Linked DNA regions of Homo sapiens: all the other regions are linked to region 1. Evidence: fine-mapped expression QTL. A gene starts in region 1. Each other region holds a variant in brackets. All regions are shown on one strand. Distances are from middle to middle.

Region 1 (8,000 bases):
CCTAAGTCAGAATGATGTTAAAAGGATAATCTGAAATCTGCTCAAATGTGTAACAGTTAATTCATATTTGTCTGAAAGCTTCATCTGAGAAAAACTGTACCGAAAGTAGCCTGTTTCAATTTACTCTGTCTAAACTCACCCACTCCCTCCCAGGCGGCCATCTGGCAGAAGACCCAAACTTGAACGGGCACAATGGCTCAGGGCCGTAATTCCAGCACTTTGGGAAGCCGAGGCAAACGGATCACTTGAGGTCAGGAGTTCGAGACCAGCCTGGCCAACAAGGTGAAACCCCCTTCTCTACTAATGCCACTGCACTCCAGCCTGTACAACAGAGCGAGACCCTGTCTCCAAAAACAAAACAAAACAAACAAACAAAAAAACTTGATCCTTGTGGAGCATTTCAGCAGACATTTAATCACCAGAAAGCTAGCGACCTCCTAGGGAGAAGAATGATATGGAGAAAAGAAAATACCTCAATAGCTTCCATGGAGCTTGTCAACATTACAAGTCATTCCTTCACACAGAATAAAGCCTAATTTAGGCTTTTTATAAATTCCTATCGGTTGCTTTTAAGCCCCTGCATTTTCCAAGGTGTTTGGAAAGTAGGTGATGGTTTACTTCAGAATTTAGTCTTCCCCGCAATCCTAGTTAAGCGTCTTAATCCTACAATCTTGAGAGCTAGCCTCTCTCAAAAGATGAGTCCCATTAATAACATGTACTGACAACTGGATTTGAGTCCCACATAAGATTCCTAAAATCAAGGCAGTTAGAAACAAGAGGTTCAAGCTCAAGCAGTCGGGCAATCACGGGGGGAAATACGGTCACAACAGTACGAGCTACGAGCTACGGTGAAGATTAAATAAGTTTTACTAGCAAAGCAGTGCGCACAAGCGCTCCCACGTTAACAATAACAAGCACCGAGGGGCAAGAAAGGCGCTCGGGGAGGCTTGACGGAGCAGGGGGGGCCTGGCCGTTGGGGAGAGAAGGCGCATGGGAACCAAGGAACCGCTCGCCCCCGGGCCCTGGAGGTGGCTGACTAGGAAGCGTCGTCAGGCAACCAGCTATCAACAACACCGCGGGCAGCAGCGACCGCAGTGGCCCAGGAATCCGGACCGTGTAACCAGGGAACCTCCCCGACCCCGGCAGCTGCAAGACCCCTGCTCACAGAACTCCCGCCCCCAACCCTCATAACTCGTAGTCACCGATGCCGGCCTCACGGCGGCGAAATCCCAACTCTCCACACCCTTAACTCGGGCACCTCCCCCACCGCACCCAGCCGCCACGAGACCCCCTGCCGACAAGAAACCCCACCCCCACCCCCAGATTCCAGAGCCTGTAACTCTGGCACGTCGCCGGCCTAGTTGCCTCGAGACCTACGCCCCGAGGGAGCCACTGCCCCTGCCCCCGCTCCGGGGCAGCGAATGCAGCCCCAGGACCCTCCACCCTCAACCTACACCACCCCAGGCCACACCTCGCCACTCACGCTCCCCATCCGCGGCTGGCTGACTCTTACTCAGGGGAGCGGGCTCGCGTCCGGGGAGACACACAGTGCTCTAGAGGATCGTCGCGGACCGAAGAGGTTACAGCGGCCACCTGGAGCGGGAACAGCATGACAGACCTCCGGGCCGGGGCTCCGCCCCTCAGGCCCAGCCCTCCGCTCGCCCTTCGCCAACCGCCGGGTACGGCCCCGCCCCCACTGCAGGCGGCCGCGCGGCAAGACATCGCCCCCTGCTGTCCTGGAGGCCGCATAGCTGCCCGCTGCTCTCGGTTCGCCAGTACGCTGGCCGGGGACTTGGTCAACTCGTTCTCCTGCTGTGCCCAGGGGCTATTAAACTGTGGGGGCCACTTCTCAGGCTAAATCTATTGCAGCCTCTCCAGCCTCCCATGCACCAGCCAGCTTAGGAACAGTGTAAGAGCCTGGAAAGAAAAATGGGGAGGGGTGGTAGTGAGAGGAAAAGTGTTGGCATACCTCTCAGGGCATTACTCCTAGCCCAGGAGTGTGGTCAACGTTGGGTCCTGGGCTTTCATTACCATTTTCAACATATTATTCAGTTCACCCCAATACAATCGCATATGGCCATATGCTACCACTAGAAAAGAGACCTCTAGTTTCCCAGGAGAGTGGAACTAAGGGTAGGTATTAATGTACTATTTTACCCTAAATTTCTTTGTAAGATGGTTTTAAAGGAAATTTTCTTCAACGGAAAGTCAGTGCCAAAACAGCAAGCTGTGGTGTGGATTCAATAATTCTAATGTTTTTGTCTTAACTGATTATTACAACGCATTGTAACAGTTATAGAAGCACCTACGGAGACTTACAGACATAATGGAAGGAATGGTAATTGGAGCGTCAAGAAAGAGTTCGTGGTCGATCTCACTGGACTGCATTTTTAAAGATTAATAGGAGTTCCCAGGCAGAAAATTTACGAAAGAGCGTTTCAAGCAATGCTGACCACATATGCAAAGCCAAAGTAAAGATATCTGCATTGCTAGAATGAAAAGTTTCAAGGGGGGACTAAAAAGAGATGAAGCTGGAAGAGGTGCATAGGGGCCAGGTTGTTAACAGCTGTGGTGCTATCTTTTCTTTTTTCTTCTTTTTTCTTTCTTTCTTTCTTTTTTTTTTTTTTTTTTTTTTTGAGACTGGCTCTGTCTAACAGGCTGGAGTGGCGCAATCTCGGATCACTGCAACTTCCGCCTCCTGGGTTCAAACGATTCTCCTGCCTCAGCCTCATGAGTAGCCGGGACTACAGGCGCACATCATCACGCCCGGCTAATTTTTTTTTGTATTTTTTTAGTAGAGACGGGGTTTCACCATGTTGGCCAGGCTGGTCTTGAACTCCCGACCTCAAGTGATCAGCCCGCCTCGGCTGCCCAAAGTGCTGGGATTACAGGCGTGAGCCACCGCGCCTGGCCTGTCATGCTATCTTTTCAGGAAATAAAAGAAAAAAAAATCTTGAACACCTATGCTAGGTGCTAGGAGATAAAACAAGGAACGCAGACCTGCTCCCTGTGTCTTGAAACTTAAAATCTTGCACGGATGGAAGAATGAGATGGAGAAAAAAGAAAACCTAAAACACGTGAACTAATAAAAAAATTAAACATTGTATTAACTGTAGGAAGAAAACAAACCAGTTACCCAGATTAATTACGCTTTGGGAACAAATGCGGTTCACAGGAGTGCCAAAGATTTAACTGTAACCTGTTACGAGAACTGAGTACTGGACATTTTCAGATCAGTAATGGCACATTATATATACGTAGATGTTAACTTTTACCAAAGCGCAAAAAAGCAATCAAGGAGTACCCACTGCCTCCTCGCATCGATAGAAAAAGCCCATCTGCAAGTGAAGTGCCAAGCCACCACGAGCCCGTTAGCTTTTACGCATGTACAGTGAGTCATCTTGAAGTAAACGGGAATGCCATGTTTATCTTCCTCTCAACCAGCTTCCAGAACGACTTTTAGCTCAGTTGTACAACAGACAGCCTTACCTTTTAGTCTTTCAACAAACTTATCTCATTTAAGGTACCTATACCCACACAAAAACACTTTCCGCCCTCCACATCCCGCTCTTAAGGCTCCAGCTACCTTTAATATGGCGGAGGCCGAGCCTGCGCATTAGAAGCAGAGAAGGCAAATACCAGTTTCTGGAATAACGTTACATGCCCTTCTTCCGGTGCGGAAGACTATACCACTCCCATACCCTATAACTTTGTTTGTTCTATTTCACACATATAATTTTCCGAGACAAGATGTTCTCATTTAAGCAACAAGAAGATTCGTCTCTCGCTATTACTGTAACTGCTGTTTATATCGTCATGTCCCGGAAAGGTCCCTGTCTTCCCTGAATGGTCTCTACCAACTTCACCTCCGGTTCTAGGTGTCATGGCTGCCCCAAGAGTCTAGGTAAGAGTTTGTTCCCGTGGTGCGGAGGGTCAAGGCCCACACCCGGAAACCTAGCGAGGTAAAGTTGCGTCTTGGTTGTAGAGACGACAACTTCTCCGCTTCCTCGGCGATGGCGGCGTCCGGGAGCGGTATGGCCCAGAAAACCTGGGAACTGGCCAACAACATGCAGGAAGCTCAGAGTATCGATGAAATCTACAAATACGACAAGAAACAGCAGCAAGAAATCCTGGCGGCGAAGCCCTGGACTAAGGAGTGAGGAGGTCCCTGGCGAGACGCAGGGGAGGGAAAGGGTGGCGGAGTTTAAGAGACCCAGAGGGAGAGGGAGGTGAAAGGGGTGAAGAGCTTTCACCGACTGGGAGGGGGACAGAATATGCGTCTTGGATCTGCAAGTAGAGCCTAAGCCCTCCGCTGGGGCTTTCACTCCCCTTTCTGTCGCTTTAATCCATTTGCCCCCGGGTGATGTAAGGGGAGAACAACAAGCGGTGATTTAAGTTGTCACTTCTGAACATCCGTATTGTCATATATGCCACACACCCTACCTTGAGCCCAGTGTCGACATGCACCTTGTTTGGGTCTTCAACTAATCCCAAACTGGGGATTGCAGCTGTTTTCAGAAATCGAGTCAGCAGCCCAAGGTCTCAAAAATAGCTATGAGCTATTTTCTTTTCTTTTTTTTTTAATAGAAATGGGTCCTCGCTGTGTTGCTCAGGCTGATCTCGAGCTTCTGCCTTCAAGCGATCCTCCCGCCTTCGCCTTCCAAAGTGCTGGGATTACAGGCGTGAGGCCTGGGCCTATAATAGTTTTTTGATTGCTGGTAATTATTTCGGAGGCACACGGAGGCTCTACTACCTGGTCTCTAAAATGTTACTCCACCAGTTCCCATAAGCCAGAAATTATAAAAATAGAGCTTAAGACCTTTTGCCCTTCAACAATATCCATTTTTCCCTGGGAGTGGTGACAAGTCGAGGGATCTTTACCCATAATATTTATCTTTTCCTGAGAGCATCTCCTGAGAGATTTCCTGCTATCAGGAAAAGATAATTATTACGGGTTATGTTTGAGAGTAAAAAGAGCACGAAAGCTAATGGTTAGATAGAAAGGAAAGCTGTGGTCAACAAGAGGACATACTTCTACTGCCTCACAGTTTTTTTTACAAGGCTAGCCTTGTCTCTCAGTATTCAGATTCCACAATGGTGAACTGCGGAAGCACCTAGCTAGAGATTTCCACGTCATTTAATTTTCATGACAACCCAGTACAGTATATCCATCCTTTTGTTACAAATTAAAAAACAAGCAAATACGTTATGTAATTTATGATCATACTGACATAAGTGAACTCTCAACTGAGCAATAGTCAGACCTAAGATCAAATCTCACAGCTGTCACTAACTAGTTGATTGACCTTAGGAAATTTACTTATCCATCTTCATTTGTCATAATATGGAAATAAGACCTACTTATTGGTATTGTCATAGAGATTAGGTGAGATAATGTATAAAAAGAGTCGTCTAGAATGTATGTAATAGGAGCACAGTAACTTGTCTTTCTTCTTTTCTCCAGTAAAGGGAGAAGCCAAGATTTCGATTCATGTCTTGACTTCCAACATGAGGTCTACACATTTTTCAGCTTTTGGTTGAAATCTGGCAAAGCTTAGGAATTAAATTTGGATTCTTTCTGTGGGCAGACATCTAAAAAGGCTTTGTAGAGACGTTGACTGACTGCTCTGTAAGGCTGCTTAAGTTGCTTGGTTATCTGCTTGCTTCTGTAACAGGCTGTGCATTTTAGGTTCGTGTACTCTTAAATATTTGGAAACTGTTGGCCTGCCTCACTGTCTAATTGTGGCTCTAATTATATTCATCCTAGCTGTCTTGGGCTGCATTAATGAGACCAAAATGTAATTTTATTCAAGAGTTTAATTCACTGATGACCAACTCTGAAATAGTGATCATAGGAGACTAGGATATTAGGGCTACTTTTTAATTTAAGGCTGATATAACAGGGAAGCCCACCCTTCAACACTCTGTTCTTTGAGAGTAGGGTTAAGAGACAGGTTAATAATGCTGATAACAGCTAGCACTTATTAGGGTTCTAGTATGTGTAAGGCACTAAGCACTTTATATACATTATTTCATTTATTTCATCCTAACAACAATTATGAATATCCCTATTTACAGAAAAGGAAACCTAGGCACAGATATTACAGGGTTGTCCCAATACCACAGCTAGGGAATGGCAATGTCAAGATTCAGACCTTAGCAGATGAATGTCAGAACCCACATTCTTAACCATTAGGCCAGAAGGTTAGGCCTCAGAACAGTTAGGCACAACCATCCAAGCAGTCAGAATCCAAGATTGGGTGATTCCAAATTAATGGAGAAAAAGTCTGTTGAACTGGTCATGTTACTCCCTTATTTGAATAGCATATTAAAAAAGTATTTCAGACTTTTCCCCTCCCCTAAGGGGGATACGTTGCTGCACTATGACATACTTATTGTTTCCAGCCTGCAAAAACTGTCCTTTTTTACTTTTTCTCCCCGTAGTCTACACTCCCTTTCCATCGCTCTAAATTCCTTCAATACTTACTCTTTATCTTCATAAAAACTTTTCTGAAATTTTACTTTATATAAGGAATTTAATTACATTGTGATTTTGTTTTGCAGTCACCATTACTTTAAGTACTGCAAAATCTCAGCATTGGCTCTGCTGAAGATGGTGATGCATGCCAGATCGGGAGGCAACTTGGAAGTGATGGGTCTGATGCTAGGAAAGGTGGATGGTGAAACCATGATCATTATGGACAGTTTTGCTTTGCCTGTGGAGGGCACTGAAACCCGAGTAAATGCTCAGGCTGCTGCATATGAATACATGGCTGCATACATAGAAAATGCAAAACAGGTAAAAATGTTGTTTCTTATAGTTTAGTAATTGCAAGTTAGAGTCTCAAGGTGACTTTTGAGTTTCTAAACTTAAAATTATCCCCTTTACATGAAATTTTATATTTAAATTTTAATGATTTATATGTAAAATGTACGAGATTAAAAGCCTGATAAGACTTATAGCATGGTTTTTTTTGTTTTTTGTTGTTGTTGTTTTTTTTTTTTCGAGACAGGGACTCACTCTGTTGCCCAGGCTGGAGTGCAGTGGCGTGATCTCAGCTCACTGCAACCTCCATCTCCTGGGCTGAAGCAATTCTCCCTCCTCAGCCTCCTGAGTAGCTGGGACTACAGGCGTGCACCAGTAGGCCTGGATAATTTTTCTATTTTTAGTAGAGACGGGTTTTCTCTGTGTTGGCCTGGCTGGTCCCAAACTCCTGTCCTCAGGTGATCCACCACCTCAGCCTCCCAAAGTGCTGGGATTACAGGCATGAGCCACTGCACCCGGTCTATGGCATGGATTTTATTTTTTTTTTAAATAAACTCTCACACTTATTATCAGATACGTGTTTAAAATAAAAAATTTGGAAACAACCTAACTCAGTTCCTGAGTATAAAACTGGCTAAATAAATTATGGTATATCCATCAGTGGACTGCCAGGCAGCCTTTAAAAGAAAAAAAAATAAAAAGATAACCATCATATATATTGATGATTTATATGAAGCAAACTCCAAAGCAGTTTATTGAGTGAAAAAACAAAGTGTAAAACATTATTATGTTATGTGGTATGCTATTGTGTGTGTTTTTATCAATCTATGTATGTGCAAAGAATATGTATTCTGTATACAAAGAATATCTCTGTAAGGGTAAGCAATTGCCCATAGATTTCGCATCTGGGCTGAGAAAAGTGGGTAATTGAGGAGAAGGAGATGGGAAGGAGACTGGTTACCCTTATTGTACTGGTACCTTGTAAATTAATTAAAGAGTAATCTTAAACTTTTTTGCCCCTTCATTTGTTAGGTTGGCCGCCTTGAAAATGCAATCGGGTGGTATCATAGCCACCCTGGCTATGGCTGCTGGCTTTCTGGGATTGATGTTAGTACTCAGATGCTCAATCAGCAGTTCCAGGAACCATTTGTAGCAGTGGTGGTAAGAATTTTAAAACCAGTTTAATTAAGTTCTTTATGAAGATTTGCTGAAGCAAGTATACTGAGAAATAAGA
Region 2 (8,250 bases), 200 kb before region 1:
CTTCACAGCCTACTATGTATTTCAAAGACAATAGTATGCATAAAGTAAAAGAAAAATAATGTTTTTATTTTATTCTTTACCGCAATTACTTACCACTGGGATGCGTGTGCCTATTAGAAACTGCACACAGCTTCTTAGATCTTGGAATTGAATACTGTCCCCCTCATTCCTGTACTTCATTGATTTTCATTCAGTACTTGGTTTTTTATCATAGCAACTACCAAAACCCAGCTTTGCGGAGATAATTATGTCATTGAAGGGAATGTAGTGTGATTTATTTGAAACCATGAGCAATCTTTTGAGGTATCCAACAGATGTATCTCCCTCTGAATTTTGCCTCAGAATTTTTTCAGGGCACCCTCATGAGTTTGCTACAGCATTCTGGGGTACTTTGATGCAGTTTTTGGGAATTGTGGCCATGTTGCCATAAGTATTTATTGAACACCTACTATGTGCCCTGCAATATGGACGTGATCTTTATCAAGAAAGACCTGGTCATTACTGTCTTCAAGCTTACAGTCTATAGGAGATACTGATATTAAACAAGTAAATAGAAATATGCTGAGTTTTGTGAAAGAAAATCACATTACAGGGGTACCTAATCCAGTTAGGGGGAGATACTATAAATGTGATTTTCTGGGTTCATAATGCATATGTTTCATAAATGTTAATATGTTGGTTGTTTCAGTCATTCCTTCTTAAAGTCACTTTTATAGAATACATTTAAATCTGAAAATTCTTATCTGTTAAATTGAAATTTATCTCATTAGGTTGATTAACTCACTGCTTGATTATTTGGTGTAAAGAGTAGTGAGAAATAGTTCATATGTAGTTTTCAAACAGTAGAGATTTTCACTTTTGTGAGTAATTAGAAAAATAAAACCGTATGAGACTTAGATTGTTTTTATTGTGTTGATTAGAGTATCAGTTACATTTAAATCTACGAACAGTTAGGCCTCTCAGTACTAGAACGTCTCTGAAAAATATAACTGATGAACAGAAGTATAAATTACGCTTTTGGAGGGGGATTAAAAAAGCGTAAGTTATATTCTGTAAAAATGTTAAAGAAATTATCACCTAGAGGAACTCTAAATCTTTGCATATTTCTTTTGTAGCAGCTGTGTTGAGAACAAAACACATCAATGTGAATTGCAGTACTGATAACTAGAAGGGCAAGTTTAAGTCACTTACCCAAGATATTTTAGTCCTGAGGATTCAGAGATGGAACTCAAAAGGAGTTGAACTCCATAAGAGCCTGGGTCCTAATACCTGCTCTATAGCTCTGGGATGTTTAAAAAGTGATCACACATATGAATTCTAAACAATATTTTAAACAGAAGTTTTCTCCTAATCACAGGTGTTCTTTAAAGAAATTTTCTTATACATTTTGGAAACTTCTACCAGCTCATTTGATCACAAATGGATGGTTATTCAGACACTGACGAGGATTTGTGCAGGTATTTTAAATTATCCTTTTTATTATCTCTTTCTTATTATTAGATATTTAAAAGGCCAAATGTACTCATATCCTAGATGTACTTTGTTGAAATTAATGTTATATTGTTACAGATGCTCAGAGTGTAGTGGATATTTATGTAAACTATGACTGTGACTTAAATGCAGCCAATATATTTGAAAGACTAGTAAATGATCTATCAAAAATTGCTCAAGGAAGGGGCAGTCAAGAACTTGGTATGAGTAATGTTCAGGTAAGAACTATAAAAACATTTTCAAATTTAAACTTTACCAGGAAAGAGTCATGTGTTTTCCTTAAAAGACCTTTAAAAAAAATTTTGTTTTTGAATTACTTTGTAGGAATTGAGCCTGAGGAAAAAAGGTTTAGAATGCTTAGTGTCGATTTTGAAGTGTATGGTTGAATGGAGTAAGGATCAGTATGTGAATCCCAACTCCCAGACAACTCTTGGTAAGGTGATATTTTGAGCTGTAATTCTTTGTCATTTTAAGTGAATAATACTTTGGAGGATAGTTGCAGCTGCTGTTAAACCAATTTCATGACATATTTATTCATTTAACTGATGAGGAAACATTCTCTGTGAGTTAAATGTCTAGCTTTAAAATTGTGAGATTTTTAACTTAGTTATCCAAACTATTTTTTTCTAAATCTTCTTAGAAATATTTTGATTATGTAAAATGAAGCATATTTATGCAACTTTCTTGTATTATAATTATAGAGGAAACATATAAAAGGCAGTATGTTTTAAGAAGGTTGAATTGTTCATCTGTGTTTGATGTTTACCCTCACTCAGAGAAAAACTCATAGCTGCAGGGCTACACTGGTATTATCGAAAACAATTCCTCATGAGGAGTGAGCTGAGAGCAGAAATCCAGTGGATACTCAGCACTGCAACTGCAAAAAGAACTCCTCCTAATGGTGCAGACTATACACGTACAAATTACAGTGTGTTTTAATATCAAAGTATGTTGTTTACTATGTTACCTAATAGTTATTTTGTATTAAATAGATATCTAAGCAACATTGAAACGCCTTGCCTTATTCAAGAATTTGTTTGCCCTTACACTTTTTTTTTTCTTTGATAGAATAATGTACTCTATCAATTTTTCTTCTTTCAGGTCAGGAAAAACCCTCAGAGCAAGAGATGAGTGAAATCAAACACCCTGAGACAATAAACAGATACGGAAGTTTAAATTCCCTGGAGTCAACATCATCATCAGGAATAGGCAGCTACAGTACACAGATGTCTGGCACTGATAATCCAGAACAATTTGAGGTCCTAAAGCAACAAAAAGAAATAATAGAACAAGGGATAGATTTGTAAGTGTCATAGCTTAAGGAGAAATGTTATTGAATATCTCTCTGCCAGTATAGTGCCACCCCTGCCGTGGGTTTATCACCTTATAATGAGTAAAATGGAGGATAGTTCTCATGGATCTAATTCACGAGGCTCCTATTCAGCCCCCCTTGTTCATTGCAGTCTAGCCCAACTAGATTCCTGTAATGCCCAACCACTCTTGTCATATAAATTAATTTGTCACCATATTATAAGTGCTGTTGATGGGTATCATCTGTGCAATTTTGCACTGTTTAGCTCATGACATCCCCCCATTATATTTTCTAATCATGTGACAACTCAAAACATTTAAAATATGAAACTTCTAATAGCTATCAGTACTCCTTTATAGGTCTTACATTTTTTCCAGCTGGCTTACAAATGTACTATTCTTGTTATTGATTTCATTTTTATATGTTGATGAGGTGATCACCTCTCTTCCAGCCTGGCTAGTGTACCGGATCCTAATCTTGTGAAGTCAGTTTTCCCACTAAGCTTTGTGATACCTGCCTGCTCCTGGACTATTTCCTTTGTGAATGTCACCATGCTGCCTTCCTTTCTCTTGTTGCCCATCTCTTTTTTTCAAAGAGATGCCATAAGGAAAAATGAAATTGTTTGCCGTCTCCATGAATCTAACTATTATAAACTTAAAAATTCCCCTGTGTGCTTACTTGGTTTGCTACTTCTGTAAAGCATTTCTTCCTGATACTTAAGCAGTGCCTTTTAGTGAATGTTCAGGTGTCTTTTTTCTCCAGTGTTAATATGAAAAACAGTTCAACAAAAATGTACACATATTCTATTTTAAAATTACAAAATCTTACCAAATTGCCTCAGGAAATAGCTGTCACTACTGCATTAATTCTAATTGTTCAGTCAATATTTATTAAAGTCTCATCTTTCCAGATATTATGCAAGATCCTGGGGAAACTAGATACATGGAAAAGCCCTTCCTTCTGAGAGGCTCTTGGTCTAGTGTGTGTAAACAAATATGCATATTGAAATTCTGCTGGTCACCCAGTAAACACATATTTGGTACTTGGGACTATTGCCAAGCACCATGAAGGCATTGGTCCTTGTATTCAAGATTGCATTCTAAACATGAGCAATTTTTAAAAATAGTACTGTGTAAATGTTTATAAAAGAGTGTCGTACAGAGTAAGTACTGCCAAGGTACTTATTTTGAAGTACTTGAGAAATGAGAAGGAGTAGTCAGAGGGCTTCGAAGTGGAAGTCTCCCAGTCCTTCTCTCAGCAGCTAGACTTGCTTTCTACTTAATACAGCCATTGATGAGAATGCTTTCATGGAACTGTATTCCTAGTATACTTGTCTACAACTGTTTCATGACACCAGTCTATCCTGTTTCTCTCCTACCTTTTTGACTATGCCGTCTCAGTCTTGTGGGCTGTTTTTTCTTTCTTCCTGCGTGCATCTTAGCATTGCCAGCGTTCTGTTCCTCAGCCCTTTTCCAACATCAGCCCCTTAGTTCTCCTA[C/T]CCAAAACAAAAGACAAATAGAGAAGCCTGTTATTTTTGTATTTCTTATTTATGGTAGTAACCCCAGCATGCTACTAAATTTATAAGCTAAAATCCTGGGAGTTAGCTTAGATTTTCCCCTCAAAGGATTAGATTCTCGAATCTAATCTGTCACTAAGACTTGTTGATTATACTTCCTAATATCCCTGCAATCTGTACTCTTTTCTCGATCTCCCACCACTATTCTTGCAAATCAAATCATGATTATTTATTTCCTCAACTAGTATAATCTTTCAATTGGCTTACCTTTTTCTTTGGTTTTGTTCATTCTTCAGTCTTTTCCCATGCTTAACTAGAGTAACCTTTCTTGAATGAAAGTCTATTTTTTCCCTCTCTTAGAGAATAAAACCAAAGCTGCTTTGAAGGTATGATAATACCTTCATGATTTGGATCTGCTGGACTCTAAGCTTCATTTCCTGCCACTTTTCTGTCTCACCTCACTTTCCAACAATGCAGAACTATTTATTATATAATACTGTCTTGTGCTTTTGTGTTTTAGTATGGCTTCTTCCTCTCTTGCATGTTTTTTCTTATTGTTTATAAAAGATATAATTGTTCTTCAAAATAGTTCCAGAGTCACCTTTCCCAGGAAATATATTATGACCATCTAAGTTAGTTACTTCTACTGTGTTATTTTCTTACCTTGTGAATACATCTATTTGTCACAGTTTTAGTATTATAATTCTTTAAAATTGTGTTTCTTCCATTACAGTGAGAGCTTCTAGGGGTAGGGGGATTATGTTTAGCTTAGTGAAAAGTGTTTCATTTTATGAATGTTAAGTGGTTATGGTTGGATGAGAACTTGACAAGGGAACCTTTAGGAAGAGCATCCCAGACTAAGAGAATGGCATGTGCAGCAGCAGAGGAAAGGGAGGACATCTGAGCACTTGTTCAGCATGGCAGGCTAGAGTGGAGGGGGAATAACAGGAGGTAAGATTAGAGCATTGGGTTGGATCTAAATTACAGAAGGCCTTATTCTCCATGTAAAGGACTTTTTGTTGTCTTGTTCCTCTTGGCGCTAGCGTGCTAGTGAAGGACTTTAAGCAGAGGAGTAGCATCATCAGATTTCTGTTTTGTAATAGGACTTTGCTGGCAGCCTGAAGGGTGCATTAGAATATGGGCAACATGAGCTAGAGGGAGACCATTTAAGAACTCTTGCAATAGCCCAAATGACAGGTGTTGGAGCACCAAAGTAACAAAAGTAGGAAGTAAATGATCTGTAAACAGAGAGGTAACATTTGAATTGGATCTTTAAGCCTGAGGGAGACTCCCCTGTGAATGGAGCAGGTAAAAGACATGCAGAGGAAATAGACTCTAAAAATAGATTTAGGGAATGGGATATGATATATGGGAGCAGAGGAAGGAGAAGGGAGTGAGAGAGAATCTGGAGCTGTATTGAGAAAGGTTTTGTGTGGTCTAATTAATTTGGACAAATGAGCCAAGATTACTTGAAGATTAAGTAGAATGTATATTCGGAGTACCTTAGGGATATTGTGGGTTCAGTTCCATACCACAGCAGTGAAGTAAATATTGCAATATAGTGAGTCACACCATTTTTTTGATTTCTCAGTGCATTAAAGTTATGTTTATACTGTACCATAGTCTATTAACCTATAACCCCCTTATGTCTAAAAAACAATGTACACACATTAATTTAAAAATACTTTATTGCTGAAAAATACTAGTAACCATCTGAGCTTTCAATGAGTTGTAATCTTTTTGCTGTAGAGTGTCTTACCTGAGTGTTGATGGCTGCTGACTGATCAGGGTGGTGATTGCTGAAAGCTGGAGTAGCTGTGGTAATTTCTTAAAATAAGACAGCAGTAAACTTTTTTGCCTTGATTGTCTCTTCCATTCACGAAAGATTTCTCTGTAGCATGTAATGCTGTTTGATAGTATTTACCTACAGTAATATGTCTTTCAAAATTGGAGTCTGTCGTCTCAAACTTTGCTGCAATTTTATAAACTAAATTTATGGAATATTCTAAATCTCTTATTTTCTTTCCACCAGTGTTCACAGCATCTTAACCAGTAGTAGATTGCATTTCAAGAAACCACTGTTTTCACTTGTCTATAAGAAGCAGCTACTCATATGTTAAAGTTTGATCATGAGGTTACAGCAATTCAGTGTCATCTTCACACTTTACTTCTAAGTCTCTTGTTACTTTTACCACATCTGCAGTTACTTCCTCCCCTGATGTCTTGGACTCCTGAAAATCGTCCATAAGGGTTAGAATCAGCTTCTTCCCAACTCCTATTGATGTTGGTATTTTTACCCCTCCCATGAGTCACAAATGTTCTTAATGGCATCTAGAACAGTGAATCCTTTCCAGAAGGTTTTCAACTTACTTTGCCCAGATTCAACAGAAGTATCTCTCTACATGGCAACTATAAGGCAGCTCTCTACATGGCAGCTTTTAAGTAGTATCTCTTTTAAGTAGTATCTCTACATGGCAGCTTTTAAGTAGTATCTCTCTACATGGCAGCTTTTACGACTTGAAAGTTAGCCTGGCATGGTAGCTTATGCCTGTAATCCCAGCTACTCATGAGGCCTGAGACCAGGAGTTCAAGATCAGCGTCGGCAATGTAGCAATTCCCCATTTCTTTAAAAAAAAAAAAAAAAAAAAAAGACTTGAAATTCAGAGTTACTTCTGAGGAAAGGGCACGGTGGCTCATGCCTGTAATCCCAGCTTTGGGAAGCCAAGGTGGGAGGATCATTTGAGCCCAGGAGTTTGAGATCAACCTGGACAGCATAGTGAGACTGCATTTCTGCAAAAACAAAATCACTCTTTCATCCAAGGGCTGCAGAATGGATATTGTGTTAGCAGGCATGAAAACAACACTAATCTCATCGCACATCTCCATCAGAGCTCTAAGGTGATCAGGTGCATTGTCAATGAGCAGTAATCTTTTGAAAGGAATCTTCTCTTTGAAGCAGTAGATCTCAACAGTGGGCTTCAAATATTCAGTCATCTATGTTGTAAACAGCTGGTGCTGTCATCCAGGCTTTGTTGTTCCATTTCTAGAGTGCAGGCAGAGTAGATTTAGCATGTAATTCTTAAGGACCCTGGGATCTTTGGAATGGTAAATGAGCATTGGCTTCAAGTTAATATCATCAGCTACATTAGCCCCTAAGAGAGCCAGTCTGTCCTTTGAAGCTTTGAAGCCAGGCATTAACTTCTCCTCCCTTGCTATGAAAGTCCTAGATGGCATCTTCTTCCAGTAGAAGAAAGACTGTTTTATCTACATGGAAAATCTGTTGTTTAGTATAACCACCTTCATAAATGATCGTAGCTACATCTTCTGGATAACTTGCTGCAGCTTCTCCATCAGCACTTGCCATCAGACCTTGCACTTTTATGTTGGGAGACTGCTTCTTTCCTTAAATCTCATGATCCAACCTCTGCTAGCTTCCAGATTTTCTTCTGCAGCTTCATTACCTTTCTTAGCCTCATAGACTTGAAGAGAGTTGGGGCCTTTTTTGGGATTAGGCTTTGCCTTAAGGTAATGTTGTGACTGGTTTGATCTTCTTTTCACACGTGAAAACCTTCTCCATATCAGCAGTTAGGCTGTTTTGCTTTCCTACTGGTGTATTCACTGGAGTAGCACTTTTAACTTCCTTCAAGAACTTTTCCTTTGCATTCACAACTTGGTTTGGCTCAAGAGACCTAGCTTTCAGCCTGTCTTGGCTTTTGACATGCCTTCCTCACTAAGCTCAATTATTTCTAGTTTTTTATTTAAAGTGAGAGATGTGCGAGTCTTCCTTCCACTTGAACACTTATTGTAGGGTTCTTAACTGGCCTAATTTCAGTATTTTTTTGTCTCAGAATAGGGAAGCCCAAGGAAAGGAAGAGAGATGAGCCAGTCAGTGGAGCAGTCAGAACACACACAAGTATTGATTAAGTTTACC
Region 3 (8,280 bases), 710 kb before region 1:
AAATGAAATTCTAGGGATGTCTTCGATGGTGCAAAAGTCAGAAAAATGTATTACATAACACTTAAGAGCAGTATCTGAAGTCAGACACTTATTTTAAAATTCAGACTTTATCAGTTGATAACTGTCGAGCTGGGCAATGCTGTTAACCTCTCGGATCCTATGCTTCTTTTTCTACAAAATGGCTATAAAAATAACACCTGCTTTACGGTGCTGCCAGGAAGACTGAATGTGATGACACCCTGTGCTTTGTTCAGTCCCTGACACAGGAGAAGATGCCCAGGATTTGTTACTACAACCATTACTACTCAAGATACCCCCATTTTACCCTTCCCAGTCAGAAGGACAAGACACTCAGAAATGTAGACCCCGGTGGTATCATTTTCAAATTGATCATGTCAATCAGTGTTTTTTAAGAGTTAGTTTTCTAGAAATTTTTCTTCCACAGAGTGAAGGACACTTACCTAGTTACTCTAACATAGCTGAGTATCTCTACATAAAGCAAAAATAGAAAAAAAAATGCTTACCATTTACTGGTAATATAAAATAAAATATGCCAAATATGGCTTCTTAACACTAATTTTGGAGTGAACTAATTAATGAGAAATTCTCTCTTTCTGTCCTATAGTTTCCTTGTTTAGTAAAAAATTAAGTAGTCTTGTTATAAAATTAGTTCAATAGACAGAGTTGATGTCCTTGGAGAGGACTTCAGGGGAAGGTCTGGTATTTCACACACAAGATGAAAGAGCACATAGCAGCTATTTCTGGAGCTGAGAAAAGGGGCCATTAACACATTTCAGTGAGTTTTTCCCTCGCGAAATTGTGCCAGGTACACATTTTACATTTTCACTTACTAAGAAAATGAATATCTTAAAATACAAGAACTAATTTAACTCCAGTGTAACATACTAACAATCCCAAGTCACCCTTATCATAGGAATGATTCAAAAGTTAAGTGAAATGAAGATTTCTACACTGTGTTTTTTAAATAAAGTCAAGGCAGAAAAATGTTACTTGCTATCAGAAATGTATGAACTCTAATGAATAAAAATATAATTTACAGGGAAAACAAAATTTGTCTAAGTGAAATTCAATCTGTTAATCATATTGCCAAACAATACTTCCAATTTGGTATAGAAACTGACGCCTTAAAACAATTGAGAGTACAAAACTATCTGGCAATGTTAACTTTTGAAATGATCTTCAAACTGTGTAGAAAGGACTAACATTGTTAAGCAGGAACTGAATCCCAAGATACAGAGGAAAATAAAGTACTTGGTCACAGTAGATGGTATCAAACTTTCAGACCAAGACATATTATATCTCAGGATACAAAGGGAATGTGCAGGTGCAATCAGGGACCCAAATAGATTCCCCAGGAGAAATCAGAGAAATGAAAATATATTAAGACTTGGGGTAAAATGCCTCTCTCTTCAAAAGATAAGCCATAGAAAATACCACAGAATAAACTTCATATCTATATCTAGAAAAATTCTAAAATGGTTTATAGGTTGCCAATATTTAGGAAAGAAAGAGGTGGTCAAGAGGTTCCATAGGTTCCAAGTGGGTTCACTAAGGAAAGGAATTGCCCAAGTAACCATCAGTTTAAGGAATTGTCATAGATACCATATAGGATTTTAGCAAAGCAGTTTAAAAGCTTTTCTACATGATCCAAGGATAAATATACTATATGAATCAAGGCCATATTTGCAGGCTCATTTTAACTGGATTTGTAGATGGTTGAATAATGTTAAATATGGATAAGAATCCACCTGGAAGGGGGTCTCTAGGGTTTTGTATTTGGTCTTGTTATTTCTTATAATGTTGTCAATGACCTAAATGAATACCTAAAAAGGTACATAAATATCCATTGAATATTAGAATAAAGATTTTAGTAGATTTTGCCTTTTCTTTCCCCAGACTGAAGAAAAAATTGGGGCCAAAATAAATAAGAGGAAATTTATGAAATTTAAATAGAAACTTTTATGTATTGATTCAAAACACAAATATACAAGGCATTTTATTTCATAATGACCCTGTGATGTGGGTATTACACTTGCATGTTGTAGATGATAAAACTGAGGTTTGCCAAGTTAGTAACTTTCCCAAGTCACTTTACAATCTCTTGCTTCCGTGGTCACATCTCTTTCTACACAATCTGATCCTCCTGCATCCCTCTTACAAGGAACCCTATGATTACTTCAGGCCCACTATTATAAACTAAATGTTTGTATCCCCCCAGAATCCATATGTTGAAGCTTAAATCCCTTGATGTTATGGTATTTAAAGGTGGAACCTTTGAAGACAATTAGGTCATTAGGGTAGAGACCTCTTGAATGGGATTAGTGCCCTTATAAAAAGAAACAAGAGAGGTAATCTTTACTTTTCTGCCATGTGAGGACAGAACAAGAAAACAGCTGTCTACACACCAGGAATAGTGTCTTCATCAAACACCAAATCTGCTGGTACCTTGATCTTGGACTCCCCAGCCATCAGAACTGTAAAATATTAATTTCTGTTTTTTAAGCCACCCAGTCTACAGGATTGGATTATAGCAGCCAAAACTTAGTAAGATGCCCATGCAAATAATTCAGGGTGACCTCCCTATTCAAAATATTTAACTTAATCCCATCTGATATGGGTTGGATCTGTGTCCCTGCCCAAATCTCATGTCAAATTGTAATCCCCAATGTTGGAGATGGGGCCTGATGGAAGGTGATTGGATCATGAGGACAGTTTCTTATGGTTTAACACCATCCCCCATGGTGCTGTCATCACAATAGTGAGTTCTCCTGAGATCTGGTTGTTTAAAAGTGTGTGGCATCTCCTCCTTCTCGCTCTTGCTCCTATTCCAGCCATGTAAGATGTACCTGCTTCCCTTTCACCTTCTGCCATGATTATAAGTTGCCTGAAGCCTCCCCAGAAGTCAAGCAGATGTCAGCATCATGCTTCCTGTATAGCCTTTGTAACTCTAGCCAATTAAACCTCTTTTCTTTATAAATTACCCAATCTTAGTTATTTCTTTACAGCAGTAAATGGGAATGGACTAATATATAATCGGCAAAGTTCCTTTTGTTATGTAAGGTCACATTCACAGGTCCCAGGGATTTGGACATGAACATCATTGGGAGACATTATTCAGCCAATCATACTGGTACAGAGTGATCAGGGTGTAAGTGTTACAGATGAGGTCAGAGAAGTGACGAGGAACTAAATCACATGGGCCCTGAAGGTCACTGTAAGAATCTTGGGTTTTATCATGAGTTAAGTGGAAAGACATGCAGAGAAATGACACAATTGAACTTGCATCTTTAAAGGACCACTCTAGCCAATGCATTGAGAGGGGTCTACAGAGAGCCATGATATATGTAGGAAAAACAGTAAGAAGGCACCTGCCATGATCTAGGTGAGAAACCAAGGCAACTCGCACCAGGGTGGAATCAGTGGAAGTGGTCAGAAATCATTGGGTTTGGAGATACCTTGAAGAGTAGAGCCAAAAGCATATTTTGACAGATTCAGTGTGCTCAGAGAAAGAGTGATCAAGAATGATTTCTTTTTGATCTGAGCAATTAGAATCATGGAATTGCCACCAACTCAAATGGAAACTTCTGTAGAAAGAGTAGGTTTGGAGGCAGATGTTAGGATAGAGCTGTGCATTCTGTTTGGGATATGTTAATGTTATCATTACTATCCAACATCAAAGTAGAGCTATCAAATAGGAAGTTGGATTTAGGAATCTGGCGTTTAGGAAAAAATCATGAGCTAGAAATATAAATATGGGAACATGGGAATTGTCAGCGTATCAGTGGTATTTTCAGCTATGAGACTGGATGAGATCATCAAGGGGATACATGTAAAAATAAATAAGAGATGATTAAGAACTGAGTTCTGGAGCATGTCCATGTTCAGAGGACAGGGAGAAGATGGGGAGCTATAAATAGGGACTAAAAGAAAGTGACTGTGCAAGAGCAGTTTCTTGGAAGACAAGTGAAAAAGTATACTAAGGATGATGAGTTATCCTCTCCAACACATGGGGTGAGCACTGAGAACTGGATTGACCAATCTCTGTGACCTGGAATAGTCTGATAACTCTGAGCAGTAAAAGCCAAGACAGCTTTGCCACTGCTTCAGCTGGGGTCAAACCAGCTACAAGCAACACAATCTACATGCTATACAGGGCTTTACATAATCCATAAGCTGGGTTCCATTACTTTCAGTCTACTGAAACCAATGGGCTATTTGCAGGGTTTATCTTATTTGGATTCTCAGTGAGGAAAAATGTAGTCGACCACTCCCACCTGAAATGCTCTCTCCCTTGCTGCTACCATTCTCTTTGTTAGAGAACCATGGTTTGGGCCGGGCGCGGTGGCTCACGCCTATAATCCCAGCACTTTGGGAGGCTGAGGCGAGTAGATCACAAGGTCAGGAGACTGAGACCATCCTGGCCAACATGGTGAAACCCCGTCTCTCCCAAAAGTGCAAAAATTAGCTGAGTGTGGTGGTGCATGCCTGTAGTCCCAGCTACTCGGGAGGCTGAGGCAGGAGAATTGCTTGAACCTGGGAAGAGGAGGTTGCAGTGAACCCAGATCATGCCACTGCACTCCAGCCTGGTGACACAGCAAGACTCTGTCTGAAAAAACAAACAACAACAACAAAAAAAACATGGTTTGGGAAAATTACT[G/A]GAGCATTTTAGGCAAAGAAATGACATGACTATATTTGCACTTTGGAAAAAAATCACTCTGAAGGTATGTTGAGCCATGCAGAGAAGTAGTATAGGAGGATCTCAGGGAAGAGACTGAAAGAAAGGAAGCCATGTGAGAGCTAGCTGCATGGAGATGGTTCAAGGATGAGAAGAAAAACAGTAGGTAAATGTATAGGAAGTAGAGTTGATTAGACCAGAAAACCCAGTTTGATGTGAGGACAGTGGAGGATGTGGGTTCAAAGATGACTACTAAATATATGGATAAATAGTGGATGATTGCATCCGTGGGAAACATTTTTAAGAAATAATATTTCTGTGACTCTGTGTGAAAATGCGATCATTTTCAGAGACTCTGATTCAGTAGATCTGAGGTGGAGCCTAGGATTCTGCATTTGTAGTGAATATCCCAAGTTAACCTGGTCCAGACATCCGTGCAACATACTTTGAGAAACACTAATACAGGCAATGCTTGAATCCATGATAGAATGTGCAATGCTCATTCTCTTAAGACATATTTACTAGGCTGGGCATGGTGGCTCACACCTGTAATCCCAGCACTTTGGGAGGCTGAGGTGGGTGGATCACCTGAGGTCAGGAGTTTGAGACCAGCTTGGCCAACATGGTGAAACCCCATCTCTACTAAAAATATGAAAATTAGCTGGGCATGGTGGCACGTGCCTATGGTCCCAGCTACTTAGGAGGCTGAGGCAGGAGAATCGCTTGAACCCAGGAGGTGGAGGTTGCAGTGAGCCAAGATCGAGCCATTGCCCTCCAGCCTGGGCAACAAGAACAAAACTCCATCTCCAAAAAAAAAAAAAAGAAAAGAAAAGAAAAGACATATTTACTAAGCTCCTACAAGGTGGCATATATGGTGCTAATTGATGGAGATGCAAAAATAAAAACAAAAACGGACAAGGCACCTGTGCTACAGACTGGTGGAGCTGTTGGAGGGGACAGACATGCAAATTTATCATTACAGACTCTGAGAAATGCTTTAAGAAAAAGTAACAAGCCTTGTGGGAATACAGGAAAGGAGAACTAGATCTAGTTTCGGGAAATTAGGAAAAGTCTCTCAGAGGAGGCAGCATTTGGGCTGAGATCAAACGAATGCCTAGGAGTTAACTTGGAAGTTAAGTGGGCAAGGAGGTAAGATTATAAAGAGTGAGAAGGAAAGAGGGCTGAGGCAGAACTTCTGGAGAGCCATTATCAGAAGTCAGGCAGCAGAAAAGGATAATGAGAAGGAACAACCAGAGAGATAGAAGAAAACAGGGAGAGAATGATGTCATGGGTCCTGCAGCAGAACATATAGAAAAGGAAAGGAGTGGCCAATAGTGTCCAGTTCCAAGGAGAGTCCCGTGAAGTCAGGACTGAAGAGTGACCTTATGCCAGGACACTGTGGGACTGCAGAAGAGAGGCAGGGAGGTGTGGAGGCTAGGAGGGTGGATTCTGAGGTCACCTGCCTACAAATCCCAGCCCTAGCACTTACTATCAGTGAGATCTTTAGGAAGTCTCCTAATATTTCTAGTGTCAGTGATCCCATCCGTAAAATCTAATATGATGGGAGGCTCATTAGTACAGAGCTATTTATCTGGCTTATTCATTGGAGTATCTCCAATACCTAGCACATGCCCAATATATTGAAGATAATAAATATTTATCAACTGAGTAAGTATAGTAATAGTAATACCTCACAGTGTAGCTAGCATTCAGTGAGTTAGTATGGATAAATCACTTAGAACAATGGTTTCCAAACTTTGCTGTATTTGGGGATCATCTGAGAATCTTTACAACATAATGATACTTAGCTCCATCCCTAGGTACTGATTAAGAGTTCAAAAAACTCTTCAAGTGAATTCAATGTGCAGCAAACTTCGGGATCCATTAATTTAGGGCAATGCCCAGCATATAGAAAGCATTTTCCAAATAAACTCAGTTGAGGAAGCTTGCAGGAAGAGACAGAATTCAGGGGGAGGGTGGAAACCAGTGTGCAACTGACAAATTACATGTACAACATAATTGTGAACTGAGTGCTCATTATCCAAGAGTTACCCCCGCTAGTGTAATTGCAGACTTTGACCCACTTGGTGCATTGAATTCTTTCCTCTTTCTACCAAAATTAAGTAGGTATTATTTGTGCTCAGCATCTGTTGGAAAGAAGCAAAGAAAGTGTCTGTAAGAGTGAGACTTGTCTCTCCAAAAGGTGGGCAAGGCCAAAATGCACACTGTATAAAAGAAAAAAGAAAAAGCCAGTGAAGTCACCTGCAGTCCCTGTGGTAATACGTACCGATGCTTCCAAGCAGTTTTGAAAATGATTCCTACCATCACTTCAGATCAGCTGAAGAATTCAGCTCACAGATAGGTTTTATTTCATCTGTAGCTTATGTAACCCTATCCAGACTATATTTTCTCCCTCCGAGAAATCTTGCAGCTGTGAGATTAATGCCAAGTTGTGTGTTTCAAATACAATTCAATAAAGAAGGCTTCCCTCAGATAACAAGAGGCTCTCTGAGATTATTTATACAACAGCTGTTAACTTTTGTGTTGAATTCTGGTTGGATATTTGATGCTTTCCTTTAATTCAGAAAAGCACTTAAAGCACTTAGAAAGGCACTGGATTGATCTTCAGTTTTGGAATCCCAAGTTGGCAGAGCAAAATAGACACAGTTCAGTAAAATTTTGGGAGCAAATTTTCTGCTCTAGCAAGCAGGTAAAAAATGGAGTTAGAAAAGCAGTCTGGACAAACAAGAGTTTGCTTATGACAGAATAAGGAGTTCACACTGAAGGAAATGTGGACACAACTGAGAGGGAAGTCAGATGAAAGTAGGGGTAGAGGATTTCAAGGTTAGTGGAGAAGGTCAAAGATTAGGAATTAGGGTGGCATTTGCAAAGGAAAAGGCCTGGAAAAAGGAGGAGAGAGGATGAGGAGCGTTCCAGATCAGGGAGAAGGGGTAGATAAAATACTTAAAAATTATTCGTTGGGAACATGAGAGAGAAGAAATGAAAGAAACAGGCAAAGAAGAGGCTTCCCAAACAAGGGAGAAAATGAATAAGTAGGCCACTTAACACGAAAAAGTCTGGGGCAGGGTCCAGGAGTGGTGGTGTTAGGATTACATGCTTGTAATCCCAACACTTTGGGAGGCCAAGGTAGGCGGATCACATGAGCCCAGGAGTTGGAGACCAGACTGGGCAACACGGTGAAATCCTGTTTCTTAAAAAAAAAAAAATACCAAAATACAAAAATTAGCCTAGTGTAGTGGTGCACACTTGTAGTCCCAGCTATTTGGGAGGCTGAGGCGGGAGGATCACTTGAGCCTGGGAGGTGGAGATTGCAGTAAGCTGAGATGGTGCCACTGTACCCCAGCCTGGGCAACAGAGCAAGACCCCGTCAGAAAAGAGAAGAGAAGAGGCGAAGTTATTAGCATAGAATGCTTTTATCATTGCTACCTTTGAAGAAATCTGTAAGTAAGCATTTTCAAAAGTTCTTAGTTTCAATTTCCAATAGAGTCAATATCAGTAGTTGTAACCCACATAAAAGAAAAGAAAAGAAAAAAGAAGGACAGAGGGAGGGAGAGACAGAGACA

Which allele goes with the higher level. Positions count from the first base shown, and alleles are read on the strand shown. Sizes are in standard deviations (SD) of each study's normalised expression. Not every link is listed here.
For the expression in activated CD8 T cells of the gene that starts at base 3,877 in region 1, A is the high allele of the variant in region 3 and G is the other (large effect, 0.82 SD a copy in Schmiedel 2018).

The links.
Region 2: its variant is fine-mapped to the expression of COPS5 in whole blood (TOPMed, PIP above 0.99).
Region 3: its variant is fine-mapped to the expression of COPS5 in activated CD8 T cells (Schmiedel 2018, PIP 0.94).

The regions. Positions count from the first base shown.
Region 1 is chr8:67,058,010-67,066,009 of GRCh38, reverse strand. COPS5 (COP9 signalosome subunit 5) reads left to right here and starts at 3,877. Exons shown (of 8, transcript NM_006837.3): 1 at 3,877-4,156; 2 at 6,565-6,799; 3 at 7,799-7,927. The coding sequence starts at 4,014. It overlaps CSPP1 (centrosome and spindle pole associated protein 1), which reads right to left and starts at 1,618. Exons shown (of 31, transcript NM_001382391.1): 1 at 1,472-1,618. RefSeq lists silencers at 1,475-1,662, 1,601-1,740 and enhancers at 3,671-3,940, 4,121-4,210.
Region 2 is chr8:67,260,550-67,268,799 of GRCh38, reverse strand. ARFGEF1 (ARF guanine nucleotide exchange factor 1) reads left to right here. Exons shown (of 39, transcript NM_006421.5): 11 at 1,358-1,457; 12 at 1,570-1,709; 13 at 1,816-1,924; 14 at 2,593-2,794. Among named protein-coding and RNA genes, the nearest start is that of ARFGEF1, 79 kb to the left of the region's middle. The variant C/T (reference allele first, on the strand shown) is at 4,302.
Region 3 is chr8:67,763,412-67,771,691 of GRCh38, reverse strand. No RefSeq gene overlaps it. Among named protein-coding and RNA genes, the nearest start is that of CPA6, 21 kb to the right of the region's middle. The variant G/A (reference allele first, on the strand shown) is at 4,679.